3 separate regions of the Homo sapiens genome follow, and regions 2 and 3 are each linked to region 1. The links come from fine-mapping of genetic effects on gene expression. A gene starts in region 1. Each other region holds a variant in brackets. All regions are shown on one strand. Distances are between the middles of the regions. Region 1 holds the start of SLC35F2 (solute carrier family 35 member F2). Region 2 overlaps SLC35F2 (solute carrier family 35 member F2). Region 3 overlaps SLC35F2 (solute carrier family 35 member F2).

The links. PIP is the estimated chance that this variant, and not a neighbour inherited with it, causes the effect.
Region 2: its variant is the best candidate, but not a certain one, in a credible set for the expression of SLC35F2 in fibroblasts (GENCORD, PIP 0.51).
Region 3: its variant is the best candidate, but not a certain one, in a credible set for the expression of SLC35F2 in aorta (GTEx, PIP 0.80).

Annotation. Positions count from the first base shown.
Region 1 is chr11:107,856,335-107,861,562 of GRCh38, forward strand. SLC35F2 (solute carrier family 35 member F2) reads right to left here and starts at 2,453. Exons shown (of 8, transcript NM_017515.5): 1 at 2,324-2,453. The coding sequence starts at 2,433. It overlaps LOC124902746 (a long non-coding RNA gene), which reads left to right and starts at 2,896. Exons shown (of 2, transcript XR_007062876.1): 1 at 2,896-3,320; 2 at 3,412-4,655. RefSeq lists an enhancer at 1,979-2,048 and a silencer at 2,269-2,578.
Region 2 is chr11:107,828,121-107,833,348 of GRCh38, forward strand. All of the region lies in intron 1 of SLC35F2 (solute carrier family 35 member F2), which reads right to left. Among named protein-coding and RNA genes, the nearest start is that of SLC35F2, 28 kb to the right of the region's middle. RefSeq lists enhancers at 4,097-4,642, 4,643-5,188, 5,189-5,228. The variant C/CAA (reference allele first, on the strand shown) is at 2,463.
Region 3 is chr11:107,804,178-107,809,405 of GRCh38, forward strand. It overlaps SLC35F2 (solute carrier family 35 member F2), which reads right to left. Exons shown (of 8, transcript NM_017515.5): 4 at 2,540-2,699; 5 at 1,182-1,338; 6 at 541-593. Among named protein-coding and RNA genes, the nearest start is that of SLC35F2, 52 kb to the right of the region's middle. The variant C/T (reference allele first, on the strand shown) is at 3,036.

The DNA.
Region 1 (5,228 bases):
GCATAGTAACCTTGTAACAGCACTACAAGGTAGGTACTGTTATTATCTCCATTTTACAAATAAGAAAACTGGAGCACAGGCTGGGCGCGGTGGCTCACGCCTGTAATCCCACTACTTTGGGAGGCGGAGGTGGGTGCATCACTTGAGGTCAGGAGTTCAAGACCAGCCTGGTCAACATGGGGAAACCCCATCTCTACTAAAAGCATGAAAAAATTAGCCTGGCGTGGTGGTATACATCTGTAATCCCAGCTACTTCGGAGGCTGAGGCAGGATAATCGCTTGAACCCGAAAGGTTGAGGTTGCAGTTAGCTGAGATAGAGCCTCTGCACTCAGGCCTGGGTGACAGAATGAGACTCTGTCAGGAAGGAAGGTGACAGAATGAGACTCCGTCAGGAGGGAGGGAGGGAGGGAGAGAAAAGAGGGAGGGAGACTGGAGCACAGAGAAGTTAAGTGACTTGTCCAAGAAGGGAGGGAGGGAGGGAGAGAGGGAGACCGGAGCACAGAGAAGTGACTTGTCCAGGAAGGAAGGAAGGAAGGCAGGAAGGAAGGAAGGGAGGGAGGGAAGGAAGGAAGGGAGGGAGGGAGGGAGGGAAAAGAGGGAAGGAGACTGGAGCACAGAGAAGTTAAGTGACTTGTCCAAGAAGGAAGGGAGGGAGGGAGACTGAAGCACAGAGAAGTGACTTGTCCAGGAAGGAAGGAAGGCAGGAAGGAAGGGAGGGGCGGAGGGAGGGAACTGGAGCACAGAGAACTGATTTGTCCAAGGTCACCCAGCAGAAGGAAGGGAGGAAGGAAGGGAGGAAGGAAGGGAGGGAGGGAGACTGGAGCACAGAGAAGTTAAGTGACTTGTCCAAGACGGACGGACACGGACGGAAGGAAGGAACAAAGAAGGAGGGAGGGAGGGAGGGAGGGAACTGGAGTACAGATAACTGACTTGTGGAAGGAAGGACGGAAGGAAGGAGAGAGGGAACGAAGGAAGGAGAGAGGGAAGGAAGGAAGGAAGGAGAGAGAGGGAAGGAAGGAAGGAGAGAGGGAGAGAGGGAGGGAAGGGAGGGAACTGGAGCACAGAGAACTGACTTGTCCAAGGTCACCCAGCCAGGATTTGAGTCCAGAATGTGAGTGCCCTTAGCCATTACACTGAATTGCCTCCCAGCTGAGAACTTTTAACAAATGTATCAGGACATACACAACTGGATGCTACAAGGTGGTTTTCGGCCAACTTTCCCCTTTAAACACATGCATCAATTTCAAACTATTTATATGATAAAAAATGCTTACACCTTTATCGATCTCGTTTTTAAAATGGTATGGCTTTTCAGGACTATCTTTCACAATCGTTAAAGGGAAATTCGCTTTGTTAATATGAAAAAAAAATCAAATATCTGTTTCATGAGTTGTCAGTGGCCAACGCTGTTTAGACTACGGCTTGAACGCATCACCCCTTAAAGATCATCTTGTGGCCTTGGGCAAATTGCTTAGCCTTCTTTGTTTCTCCAGCGGCAAAGTGGATATAACAATAGTACCATCTCCTAAAGTGGTGAGGATTAGCTGATATTATCCATATAAATTGTTATGCACAGTACCTGACACAGAGCGAGTGCCCAATAAATGTCTTTCACTATTTAGGTCCTGGGTTCTCTCATTTCCAGAGTGCAAGTCCTCCAGCAACCACAGAAACGCTTTCTAGAGTCGCTGCCCACTCCTTAAAAACATTTGTCCCTACTTCGCACAGAGCATAGTGATACCACAAACAGGCTTCCCTGGACCCCAGCCCTGGGGGTGGCTATATCACCTCGCTCAGGCCCAGGAAGAGAGAGCCGGCTCTGGTCTCCCACCCGGCAGCAGCACAAAACTTAACCAGGATTTCTCACTTCGGTCAACTCTTGAATCACCGCGCCCAGTCTGGCTGGCTCGGCAGCAGATGGAATGAGGGCGCCGGCGCCAGGAAGTGGCGCTCACCCACCTGCCCAGCCCGAGGTGGGCACTCCTCCTTCACAGCATCCCCGGGGACCTCGTCCCTCCACCGCGGAACGCCCCAGAGGACCGACCTAATAGTGCCACAGGGTGGGTTTCCCCCCAAATCCTCCAAAATACATCGCCACGATTTCGAAACGGGAGCCGAGGGAGACGCACCAAGTGCTTCCCGACGCCAGGTGAAGCGCACCATACCTGGTGTGCGTGTTGAGCCCCGAACCGAAGTCCGTGCGGCCGCCACCTCTGCCTCCCTGCTGGGGGCCTCAGAGAGTGTGCTCCTTGTCCACGTGCGCGCAGGGCCCGCAGCCGCCCCCACGCCCCAGCGGAGCTGCAGCACGCCCCTTCCACTCACCAGGTGAAGAGTTTGCCTTTTATCCTGCGCAGCAGGCTGGAGAACTCGGCCGCCGCTCCCTCCGCGAGGGGCTCTGGGGCGCCGGGGCCCGCTGGCGAGTCTGCCTCCATCGGCGCCCTTGCGCGTCTCCGGCGCCCAAAACCCCCGAAGTGCCGGGTCCCGGAAGACGGGAGGCGGTGCCTGTGCGGCCGGCTGGGGCTCCGCTCTGGCCCTGCGCTCCCTCCCTCGCTCGCTTGCTCGCGTCCCTCTCGCTCCTCCGCTCGGCTCCTTCAGCGACCAATCATTAACTGTCAAGCCCTAAGGGCCAGACAATACATTTGCAGATTACAACCTGGCACCTCCAGGGTGGCAGGAGGAGAAAGGGCAATTTTTTTTTCGTCTTGGCAGCCGAGCCTTATTGTTGAGCGGCACCCAGTGTGCCTTCAGGTTTTTAGGGTTCCTTGTTTGAAATCACAAGATACAGTGACACGAGGTTATTGTAGGTGATTCCTAAGCTAAGAAGCGGTGAGTGAGCAGTGAGTTAGAAGCAGTGAGTGAGCCGGGACTCTCCTAACTGGAAGGACTGGCTGACCCCTCCTCTTCCCTCCCACTCTCCCTCCCTCTGGCTGATTTGTACAAAATCGCTTCATTAAAATAACTGAAGGCTGGCAGGGCGCGTTGGCTCACACCTGTAATCCCAACGCTTTGGGAGGCCGAGACGGGTGGATCACCTGAGGTCAGGAGTTCGAGACCAGACTGGGAAATATGGTGAAACCCCGTCTCTACTAAAAATACAAAAATTAGCCGGGCGTGGTGACGGGTGCCTGTAGTCCCAGCTACTCGAGAGGCTGAGGCAGGAGAATCGCTTGAACCCAGGAGGCGGCGGTTGTGAGCCAAGATCGCGCCTTTGCACTCCAGCCTGGGCAACAGAGGGAGACGTCGTCTTAAAAAAAAAAAAAAAAAAAAAAAAAACCTGAAGGCGCTTCAGGTCTGTGTCGCTTTTCCCTGCAAAACATGGGTAAGATCCTAAAAAGATCTTGGAAACGTGCCTTTGTGGCGTGGATGGAGGCGTGGCTCATTCCTCGCGGTGTGTTGGTTTTGTCTTTCAGTATTCAGTTGTCTCCGCCGTGCCAGGGAGAGAGACGGTGCCAACCCCCGGCGCTCGGCTTGGATGCCCTGCCCTGGCCACGCCTTCCGAGGCTTCCACGGGCTAAAGAGGGATTAAGAGACACTAAGCTGGGGTCGAAAAGTTCCTGTCACTGACCCCCTGCTTCCGGAAAGGAGGAGATCCAGAAAACAAAAGAAAAGGTGTTGGGACCTTTTATTTTTTCCTGGCCACCTGCTTTGGGGGTTGGGGTGGGTCAAAATAAACGTAGGTTCAAATAGACAGGCTGTGCAGACGAGCTGGCAATTCTGTAAGAGGAGTCTAAGAAAAAAAACAGCTTTCGAAAATGAAATATTACTTCAGGAACCCCAAGTTTAGCAGCTGCAGGAACCTCAAAAAAACCTTTGAAACTAAGAACGTGGTCATCCGTAGAGACTAATTAAGTATTATAATACAAGCATATTATGAAACAAGAGGACATTAGAAGCACATTTAAGATGTCACTTTTGTAAAGTAAACAACTCATTTAACCCTGCATATTGACAACGTTGAATTCTACCTGAGCCCTGTGCTCCTGGAAAGTAATGACAATTAAGAAACCTTCCTAGGCCGGGCGCGGTGGCTGACGCCTGTAATCCCAGTGCTTTGGGAGACCGAAGCGGGCGGATTACTCCTGAGGTCAGGAGTTCGAGACCAGCCTGACCAACATGGCGAAATCCCGTCTCTACTAAAACTACAAAAATTAGCCCGGCGTTTTGGTGTGTGCCTGTAATCCCAGCTACTTGGGAGGCTAAGGCAGGAGAACCACTTGAACCCGGGAGGCAGAGGTTGCAGTGAGCCAAAATCGTGCCACTGCACTTCAGCCTGGGCAACAGAGTAAGACTGTCTCAAAAAAAAAAGAAAGAAAGAGAGAAAGAGAGAAAGAAAGAAAGAGAAAAGAAAAGAAGCCTCCCACCTTTTTTTTTTTAATCAAAGATTTTGGTTGAATTTCTCTTCCTCCCTCATACCTCTGAACTTTCACCCACCCTGACCCTGAGCCGCAGGTAACCCCTCCTTAATAGCCCCTCCTGAGAAGTTGGCCTCAGGGTGAAACATTCTCTAATCTATTATCCAGTGGAGAGCCACCTTTTCATTCCACTTCCCACCAGTAGGGAATAGGCCCCCTCCTACTGCAGGAACCCTTCCCCACAGTCCCCACCCATCCCCATTTGCAATAATCCCTACAAATAAAGTCTCTCCTTAACCAAATTTGATTTTTTATTTGCAATATATACAGTAGTCACCTCCTTACCTGAGGTTTTGATTTCCACGGTTTTAGTTACCACAGCCAATTACCCTCTGAAAATAGGTGACTAGAGTATAGTAAGATATTTTGAGAGAGAGACCACATTCACATAACTTTTATTACAGTATATTGTTATAATTGTTCTATTTTATTATGAGTTGTTAATTTCTTACTGTGCCAATTTTATAAATTAAATTTTATTATAGGTATGTGTAGGAAAAAAGTATATACTGTATAGGGCTAAATACTCTCTGCAGTTTCAGACACCCACCGGGGGTCTTGAAACATAAGGGAGGACTACTATGTTTGATTATGTGAGTATGAAGAAAAATAGAAGATACACGTCAACACCAGTAACTTTAAAAGAGGGTGGGGGGCCAGGCACAGTAGCTCACACCTGTAATCCCAACACTTCAGGAGGCTGAGGCAGGAGGATTGTTTGAGCTCAGGAGTTTCAGACCAGCCTGGGGCTACATAGTGAGACAGTCTTTTAAAACACACACACAGACACACACACACACCCCCCAAAAAAAAAC
Region 2 (5,228 bases), 28 kb before region 1:
CAAATGTTTAAATCCATGAGTTAATAGCAATACTGGCTGGGCACAGTGGCTCAGGCCTGTAATCCCAGCACTCTGGGAGGCTGAGGCAGGTGGATCACGAGGTCAGAAGTTCAAGACCAGCCTGGCCAACATGGTGAAACCACGTCTCTATTAAAAATACAAAAATTAGCTGTGCCAGTGGCGGGAGCCTGTAATCCCAGCTACTCAGGAGGCTGAGGCAGGAGAATCGCTTGAAACCGGAAGGCGGAGGTTGCAGTGAACTGAGATCGCACCACTGCACTCCAGCCTACCTTAAAGACCGAAACTCCATCTCAAAAAAAAAAAAAAAAAATAGCAATACTAAAAATTTTTTTTAACTTGCTGGTCTTCTTTGGAGGGTGCTAGGGAATGAACTTACTATTTTGAAGACTAGTGAATAAAAGAAATGAATTAATGTTTATCCTGCCCTTCTTATACAAATTATACCTCAGGGTAATCAAAGAGTTGATGAAAAGGAGTTTGTCCTTGTGGAAATAGTCTGTATAATGAATTAAGATGGGATGACAAATAAAATATCACTTTAGGAGCCCTAATAAAATAATGGATCTAGACAAAACATCAATAGCTCCTAACAACAAAAAAGAAAGAGACAAGAAAAAATTATATGTCTCCTGCTATGATTTGAATATCTGCCCTTTCTAAAACTCATGCTGAAACTTAATCCCGGCCGGGCGCAGTGACTCATGCCTGTAATCCCAGCACTTTGGGAGGCCGAGGTGGGCAGATCACTTGAGGCCAGAAGTTCGAGACCAGCCTGGCCAACATGGTGAAACCCTGTCTCTACTAAAAATACAAAAAATTAGCCAGGAGTGGTGGTGCACGCCTGTAGTCCCAGCCACTCAGGAGGCTGAGGCAGGAGAATTGCTTGAACCTGGCAGGAGGAGGCTGCAGTGAGCCAAGATCACGCCACTGCACTCCAGCCTGGGCGACAGAGTGAGACTGTCTTGGAGCAGGAGGTCAGTAGGAAAAAAAAAAAAGAAAAAAAAAAAAAGCTCACACCTGTAATCTCAGCACTTTGGAAGGCTGAGGTGGGCCAATCACCTGAGGTCAGGAGTTCGAGACCAGCCTGGTCAACATGGTGAAACCCCATCTCTACTAAAAGTACAAAAATTAGCCAGGCATGGTGGCAGGTGCCTGTGATCCCAGCTACTTGGGAGGCTGAAGCAGGAGAATCATTTGAACACAGGAGGCAGAGGCTGCAGTGAACAGAGATCGTGCCACCGCACTACAGTCTGGGTGACAGAGTGAGACTACATCTCAAAAAAAAAAAAAACTTGTTTGACTCCCAGTGCACCCTTCTCGCCCTGTGATGCCTTCCACCATGCTATGACACAGTATGAGGCCCTCACCAGAAGCCAAACAGATGCAGCTGCTCAATCTTTGGACTTCCCAGCCTTTAGAGCTATATGAAATAAACTTCTTTTCTGTATAAATTACCAGTCTTGCATATTTTTATAGCAACAAAAAACAAATTAAGACACCTCTTGATGGTAGTACATAATACCTATGAAATCTCACAAAAAAAAAAAAAAAAAGACTACAGAGTTTTTAACCTGGGGCACATGGACCAGGTCCATGAAAATATTCTAGGGTCTATGAACTTCAGTAGAAAAAAATATATATATCCTCATTTTCAGTAACATTGAACTAAAATTTAACAATCCCTTCAATTATAAACATAGGCAACAAACTATAGTGGTGCTAGCAAGACCTAAGACTTTGCTGCCAAAAGAATTCACAGATATTTTCACTTCGTATGGCTACTATAGCTAAAATTTCAAATAAAATTTATATTCATCACTACTCCAAAATCATGGTAAACCAGGCATGCTGGCTCACACTTGTAATCCTAGCACGTTGGGAAGGCCAAGGCGGGAGGATCACCTAAGGCCACAAGTTGGAGACCAGCCTGGGCAAAATAGCAAGACCTCATCTCTATAAAAGTTAAAAAAAAAAAATTGTAATTAAAAACTCATTGTGATATTTTGTTACTTAGTAAATTTTAAAGAAAAGAAGCCTCTATATTAACATATATCCCAATTTGCTTTTTAATAATTTGACAACTAAATCTTTGCAATTGGTTTCCATTATAATTTTTAATATTTATGCATTTAAAAACATTATCCTAAGAAGAAAATACTGTTGGCTGGGCACAGTGGCTCACGCCTGTAATCTCAGCACTGTGGGAGGCCGAGGCGGGCAGATCACGAGGTCAAGAGATCGAGAACATCCTGGCCAACATGGTGAAACCCCATCTCTACTAAAAACACAAAAATTAGCTGGGCATGGTGGTGGATGCCTGTAGTCCCAGCTACTCAGGAGGCTGAGGCAGGAGAATGGCGTGAACCTGGGAGGCGGAGCTTGCAGTGAGCCGAGATCACGCCACTGCACTCCAACCTGGGAGACAGAGCAAGACTCAGTCT[C/CAA]AAAAAAAAAAAAAAAAGAAAAGAAAAAAAAAGAGAACAGCCTCTACTTTTATTTGAATGTTCCCATAAAATTTTTTTTAAGCCAACAGAAACCCTACATGTACCCATGCCAAGGCTGTTCAGACAAGCCAAAACATCACATGTATTTGCCTTCAGCTCTAATTATATCAACCAAGTGTGGTAACAATCATTTTCTCTTGCTAATCAGAAGTTCAGGTGTCTGATTAGTTAAAAGAGAGAGAGAAAAAAATAAACTCATTATTACTTAACAAATGAGTATTGGGGAAAGGGTGTCAAAATCTTTCAAAACATAAGATTCCTGGCAAAAAATAATAATAAAAGGGGTTCATAATGGAAGAAAAACCTGAAGATTGCTGATCTAATATAAAATGTCTCACACTGTATTCTACTTACTATGTATATGGCTACCCAGGTAGGTCACAAGCTCCTAAAAGACAGAAACAGTGTCATATTCCTCTTTGTTTATCCAGGATATGAATCAATACGGGCTGGCACAATTGCTGCAAAGGTAAAAAATGCCACCGGAGAAAGCTGACCTTTCTGAAACCTCTGTTAGTTCAACTGGAACAAGTAGGAACAAATGGATTACAAGAAGAAATCAATCTACAGTTTAACTTGGAAATGTGTCAACCCAAATGTGATTATCAGGAAGCATTCAACTTAAAAATAAAAGTGTAAAATAAGTTGCAAAACTCATTGGAATGGGACAGGGTGATAGTATTTGCTCCCATCTCAGCCTACCACATAGCTGGGACTACAGGCACATGCCACTACACCCAGCTAATTTTTAAAATTTTGGTAGAGACAAGGCCTCACTCACTATGTTGCCCAGGCTGGTCTCAAACTCCCGGCCTCAGGCGATCCTCATGCCTAGACCTCCCAAAGCACTGGGATTATAGACGTGCACCACCACACCCAACCAACAAGACAATCTTATCTGGTTGCAAGGCAGATACAAAATTATCTTCGTGAAGTGGGGGGACATGTAATTTCTTTGCCCTTGTTCTAGATACACCAAGCAACATTAATCCTATATTTCCCAGGTAGGTTTTTCTTTTGAGATGGTTGTCTTGTGACCATCTGTCAAAGTTAGCAGTGACAATTCTCATTAAAAACTACCACCTTTCTTTTCAAGTGTAAGTGTAAGTTTGAACAGCAAGAGCTACTTTCTCCAGAGACTGGTCACTACCAAATGAACTGATCATGATGTTCCAGACAAAGAGAACTGGAAAATTCTGGCAAAGAACAGGAATCAAGAGGTTCAGGTGTCAGCCTTCTTATCTACTACTCTAGAAATATGTTCATAAGGTTTTGCCAAAACCACAGTCTCACTATTTAATGAAGCAATAAAGCAAGCTTTTCCAAAAATTACCCTATACATTATAACACCAGTTATAGTTTCTTATGGAGCGGGACATTTCTGAAATTGGCAAAATATTTTTTTTTTCTGCTGATCTTCACCAAATGTTATACTGCATTTCTTAGACTAAAGGATGGGGTGGGTGAGCTAATTTTGCAGTATTCTATAACAATACAACAGAAGTTTGGAGCAGAGCAAGTTTAGTATGGGTCTAGATCCAGCAAGTAACCCACTAGGTTATATCCAGTCACTTTAGTTGTAACTCAGGATATTTCCAATCAAGACAGCTTCTACCTCTGAGCATTCCCAATGTTGTTAGTTCCCGGAACTGGTTTATTCTATTCTGAATCTACGAGAACAAGAAAAGGCCTGGAGCCAAAAGATAGTAGTGGGAGGGTTTAGAAGTCAATGACTTGATGAATTGATTGATGGATCAAATTGCCTGATTGACTAAACCTTAAAAGAACCAGATAATTTGGGTGGGATTGTGGAAATTTTTTGTTATTTTCTTTTTATTCTGTACATACTAGTTTTCAAACAATGAGAAATCTATTTACAGCCAAGTGTGGTGGCTCATGCCTGTAATCCCAGCACTTTGAGAGGCCAAGGTGGGCAGACTGCTGAAGCCCAAGAGTGCAAGACAAGCCTGGGCAACATGATCAAATGCCTTCTCTACAGAAAAAAATGCAAAAATTAGCCGGGTATGATGGCATGCACCTATAGTCCCAGCTATTTAGGAGGCTGAGATGAAAGGATCACCTGACCCCAGGGAGTTCAAGGCTGCAGTGAGCCATGATCATGCCACTGCACTCCAGCCTGGGTGACAGAGTGAGACCCTGTCTCAAAAACAAACAAACAAAATCTACATTCTGTCAGGAAAGTACAGGGACTAGAAGAAAATATAACATTGGAAGGCTTCCCCTCAACTCCTCATGTTTAATCCTTGTGGCTAATTTGGATTTGCAGCTCACATTCCATCTTTTGTTTCTCTCCCAACCTCTTCTGGTCTGTGATCCTCTGTTGACAATTTGAGATTTCCAAACTGCTGACTTAAAGCTCCCTGGACTTGCCAGTGGGGCATCCATCATCATCAAGTATTATTTATTTACTTATTACATTCATGCTAATGGACGCCATCAGAATACCTTGTCTATGTTTTTTATAGTGTCTCACAGTTTACAAAAACTCTTCTATACCCTATCTTATTTTATTTTTGATCCATTTGCCAATGCTGTGTGGTTGCAGATGAAGAAACTGAAGCTAAGAGAGTTGAAATGGCTGGATGCGGTGTCTCACGACTGTAATCCCAGCACTTTGGGAGGCTGAGGTGGGCAGATCACGAGCTCAAGAGATCAAGACCATCCTGGCCAACATGGTGAAGCCCT
Region 3 (5,228 bases), 52 kb before region 1:
TAGACAATCTTCCATGACACCTATGTACTGTTTAACTTCTCCCCACCCCATCATTAAACCAGGTTCCAATCTTTTCTGACTGTCCCATCACCATTTTCTTTTCCTTTATTTATTTATGCAGATGCCTAGGAATATCAGATGACAGGAGCAATGGGAGGTGAGGGAGATTTCACACCATTGATGATTCAGGTTAATGCTTCACAAATTATATCAAGCAGACAACCTTCGCAAGAAGTTTGAGGACCCAAGATACAGATCTAATTGAAAGCTGGTTTGACCAAAGGTCAATCTCCAGTCTTGTTCAGGATTCCTAGTAACCAAAGGCTATTCCTGCAGGTAAAGATTAAGAATTAACTTTTATGGAAGCTTATCTACCAATTTTCAGAGAAAACTCAATGTAAACCACTATAGTTGATATGTATTAAATCACTCCTGGATTTTACAAAGACGTCTAAATATTATTAAAATAAAGCACATATTTCTAGATGTTCATTTGTTTGTTAAAGAATGCTGACTAAAAGGAATTATTTCTTTACATACCAATTTTCCAGTCCCAATGAATGCTGGCAATATCCTTATATTCCACAATCAATCTAAGATTAAAACAAGAGGTCACAGAGAGGTCCACATACTAATTTTCACTATTTTATAAGCATTTTAGTCACTATACTTCAGCTAAAGTGAGGAATTACATGGACATTTGAATTTGTCTTAGAATATAAAAATAACGATCTTTAATAAAAATGACAAAGAATAAAACCAAAGGAGTTCATAAAGATATGTTTGACTCCCTTACAGGTGCTCTGAAATAATAGTCAAGTATAGGAGGAAAATATGATATTATGCTTTGTTTTTGAATAAGCTTAGGAAGTTAATGTGTTAATATTTTCTGGAAATAACTAAAAAAACTCCTTACTGGCAAATGCCTCTACCACATGGTAATCAGGAATCCTAAGCAACACACATGTTTAAGAAAATAGGAAGTAATTCTTGATGTTTTAACAATCCTCTAGTAGACACTCAGCAAGTTATTAGGTAATGGCAAAACCACAATTACTCTTGCATCCACCTAATACTAATTCCAAATGTGAATTTGGGCCAAATAAACAATGAATATTAGTAGTTATCATCTATAATATATTTGCTTATTTTGTCTTTAGAAAAAAATTGTAGAATCTTACAGCTGTATACCACTGATAATTGTTCCAAACAGGCCCACCATTCCTAAAAACTCCTGTCTGCTCAGCTTCTTCACGATGTATTCCTCACAAACATTTGAAATGGCATAGAGGGAAGCCCCAAGAAGGACCAAGATGTCACCAATCAATACATCACTCCCTGCAGGAAGACAAGCCACAGAAAGCAAAACACTGTCAACAGATGAACCTCCACAGCGTGCCTCCAGGCGGTCATCTGACTCGTGTTCATTTAAATGACACTAAAGAAGAAGAAACTGGTTACTAGAAGTTTATGTGTGAGAGTGTGTGTGTGTGTATGTGTGTGTGTGTATGTGTGTGTTTGAGACAGTCTTGCTCTGTTGCTCAGGCTGGAGTGCAGTGGCGCAATCTCAGCTCACTGCAACCTACACCTCCGGGTTCAAGTGATTCTCCTGCCTCAGCCTCCCAACTGGCTGGGATTACAGGCACCCTCCATCATGCCTGGCTAATTTTTGCATTTGTACTGGTCTTGAACTCCTGACCTCAAGTGATCCGCTCACCTTGGCCTCCCAAAGTACTGGGATTACAGGTGCGAGCGACTGTGCCTGGCCTAATTTTTGTATTTTTGGTAGAGACCGAGGTTTCACCATGTTGGCCAGGCTGGTCTCGAACTCCTGACCTCAGGTGATCCACCCACCTTGGCCTTCCAAAATGTTGGGATTACAGGTGTGAGCCACCGCACCCAACCTGGTTACTAGAAGTTTAAAATCTCTTACTCTTCTCACTTTCTGGTGCAATTCTGCTGTAATTTTTCATAATTTAACTCCTCAGAAGTCTAACAGGCTAGAAACTGATGATATATATCATAATGTAAGGCCTCAGAAAATGATTCCATGACATGACAAATTAATGGAGTTCATTGAAGGGGTAGGTCAATTTGAAAAATGGGAACCTGCTTTCAAAGTAATTTTCCCTCTCAATCCAAAGAGACACTTAACTCACTTGTAGACTGGGTGAATTCACAGACCTTAATTAGATTTTATACTATCAACTATAATTTTCTCTCTCAATCCAAAGAGACACTTAACTCACTTGTAGACTGGGTGAATTCATGGACCTTAATTAGATTTTATAGTATCAACTGTAATTTTCTCTCTCAATCCAAGGAGACGTTTAACTCACTTGAAGATTGGATGAATTCATAGACCTCAATTAGATTTTATACTATCAACTGAATTCAACACAAAGTGTGGCAAAGTGTTCTCACCTACACAGTGACTTAAAAAGAAATACTCCAGTAAACAAGTTTCTTTGTTGATATAAAAGTGAAAACATAAACAAATTTGCTGTGATTGAAGCACAAACATGTGACACCGTCTCACCTGAATTGTCTTCCCTCCCTGCTAGTATGTCTGCACCAACCATGGTTCCTACACCCAACAGACAGACAGCCACGGCGATGAAGTGGATCACTCTGTATCTTGCATGAAGAATAAACCATGACAGAGCCATCAACACAGGAATCCCAAAGCAATCCAAAAGCTGCATGGAAAGAGAATCAACAGTTTAAAACATATCTCTCATTAGCTAAAAGATGGGTAATTAAGAAATAATAGGAGTCAGTATTTATAATAGGAGTCAGTATTTATTGAGCATTTATTATTGCCAGCCCTGTACTAAGAGCTTTACCTGGATTCACTCATTTAATCCTCACAATTCCATGAGACTGAAATTACAATCCAATTTTATACATGAGAAAATGAAGATACAGAGAGGTGAAATGAGTTGCCAAAAACACATAGTTAAAAATGGGATGACAGCTGGGCACGGTGGCTCACGCCTGTAATCTTAGCACTTTGGGAGGCTGTGGCGGGCAGA[C/T]TGCTTGAGTCCAGGAGTTCGATATCAGCCTGGGCAACATGGTGAAACCCTGTCTGTACAAAAAAAAAAAAAAACAACAACAAAAAAAAACCTTGGGTGTGGTGGTGCACTCCTGTAGTCCCAGCTACTTGGGAGGCTAAGGTGAGAGGATCACTTGAGCCCGGAGTTCAAGGATGCAGTGAGCTGTGATGGTGCCACTGCACTCTAGGCTGTACAACCCAGAGAGACCCTGTCTCAAAATAAATGAATAGATAATAAAATACAATGGAAGAGTCAGTTGCTGTATACAAGAATTCTGCTGAGGGCCTGTGCACTTTACCTCTATGCTCCCACCTGTGTATATCTTTTCTTTTATTTTATTATTATTATTTTTTTTTTGAGATGGAGTCTCGCTCTGTTGCCCAAGCTGGAGCGCAGTGGTGCAATCTCGGCTCACTGCAACCTCTGCCTCTCGGGTTTAAGCAATTCTTCCTGCCTCAGCCTCCCAAGGAGCTGGGATTACAGCCATCTGCCACCATGCCCAGCTAATTTTTGTATCTTTTAGTAGAGATGGGGTTTTGTCATGTTGGCAAGGCTGGTCTCGAACTCCTGATGTCAGGTGATCTGTCTGCCTCGGCCTCCCAAAGTGCTGGGATTACAGGCGTGAGCCACCACGCCTGGCCCTGTGTATATCTTTAAGTTCAGTAGACAAACATTCCTTCCTACCTGCAACCATTTACTCAGTCAACAAATATTTGTTAAACACCTTGCATGTGTGAGACACTGTGAAAGGAGCTAGGAATAGCGGTGAACAGGACAGAGCAAGCTGTGTCCTTAGGAGCACACAAAGCTAGAAAGGACATGGAATAAATAATCACACCACCAGATATTTCACTGGAATCGGGCTAAGCGCTACAAAGAAGCATGGGTTACTGTGAGAGAACAGACACCATCTCCCTGACAAAGCGTCCAACCCCACCATGTGAGACACACTCGTGCTCATGGCAAATACTCTTGCTCATCCTCCTCACATGCTCCCCCTCACCTGTTGATACTGGGTCCAGAAAACACTAGCTATACACCTGATATTGCTCATCTGGAAGGCAGAGGGATTAAGTGTGCCAAAATTACAGCAGGTCCAAAATTGTTTGCAAGATAAAAGATAAAAAAGAGAGTGCACTCACTCAATTCTTAAATTCACAAATTTAATGTGCATTCAAGGATAAAATATATTCAAGAGATTCTTGATGCATTCCAATGTATTTCTTTCAAGGAAGAAATATATTCCTTATACCAGTAATATTCCCGAAACTGCTGTTTTATTGCTCACCCTTTTGTTGTTTCAAACCTTGTCCCTGATTCTCTCTGTATCTGTTTGGTCTTGAACAAGACAGGCCCCTAAATCTCCAACAGCCCATTCGATCCTGTCCACAGTTGTTTACTGATTGCCTTTCACTGCAGTAGCATCAGTGGAGTCCAACGCATCATGTGTAGGAATGGGCATCTTGCCTTGTTATTTATTCCAGCTGCAGAACTCTAATCTCCTAAGTGCTTTATTGAGCCTGCCTGAATAACAAAACATTAAACGATGCAAATGATAATACCCTGTCCCTGAAGACACCAGCAGAATCCAGCCATAACGGCTTAACAAAATCTCAACTACATTCCTTAAACAAAAAAAGTAGAAAAAGACATTCTAAGAACTACCACAGAAGAGTCCCTTGTGTCTTAAAATCAAACTTAAATTTGCTCTATCTTTAACAACTTTTGTTGGGCAATGAGGGAGATGCCTATGTCATGATCAGAGCTCCAGAAACCTCAGGCCCCGGCCCCACGCTGACCAGCTAGCTGTGTGGCCCCAGCCAGTCACTCTCCAAGTCAAAATATAAAATAAAAAGATCAGACGAAATGATCACACAGTTTCCCTCCGACTCTAACATTCCATGACTTCTCATCTGATATCTATCACCTTTAGTCATGTGAACCTTCTTTTCAAAATGTATTCTTGGTGGCCGGGAGTGGTGGCTCATGCCTGTAATCCCAGCACTATGAGAGGCCAAGGCCGGAGGATCACTTGAGGTCAGGAGTTCGAGACCAGCCTGGCCAACATGGCAAAACCTCGTATCTACTCAAAATACAAAAAAAAAAAAAAAAAAAAAAATCAGCTGGGCGCATGCCTGTAATCCCAGCTACTCAGGAGGCCAAGGCTGCAGT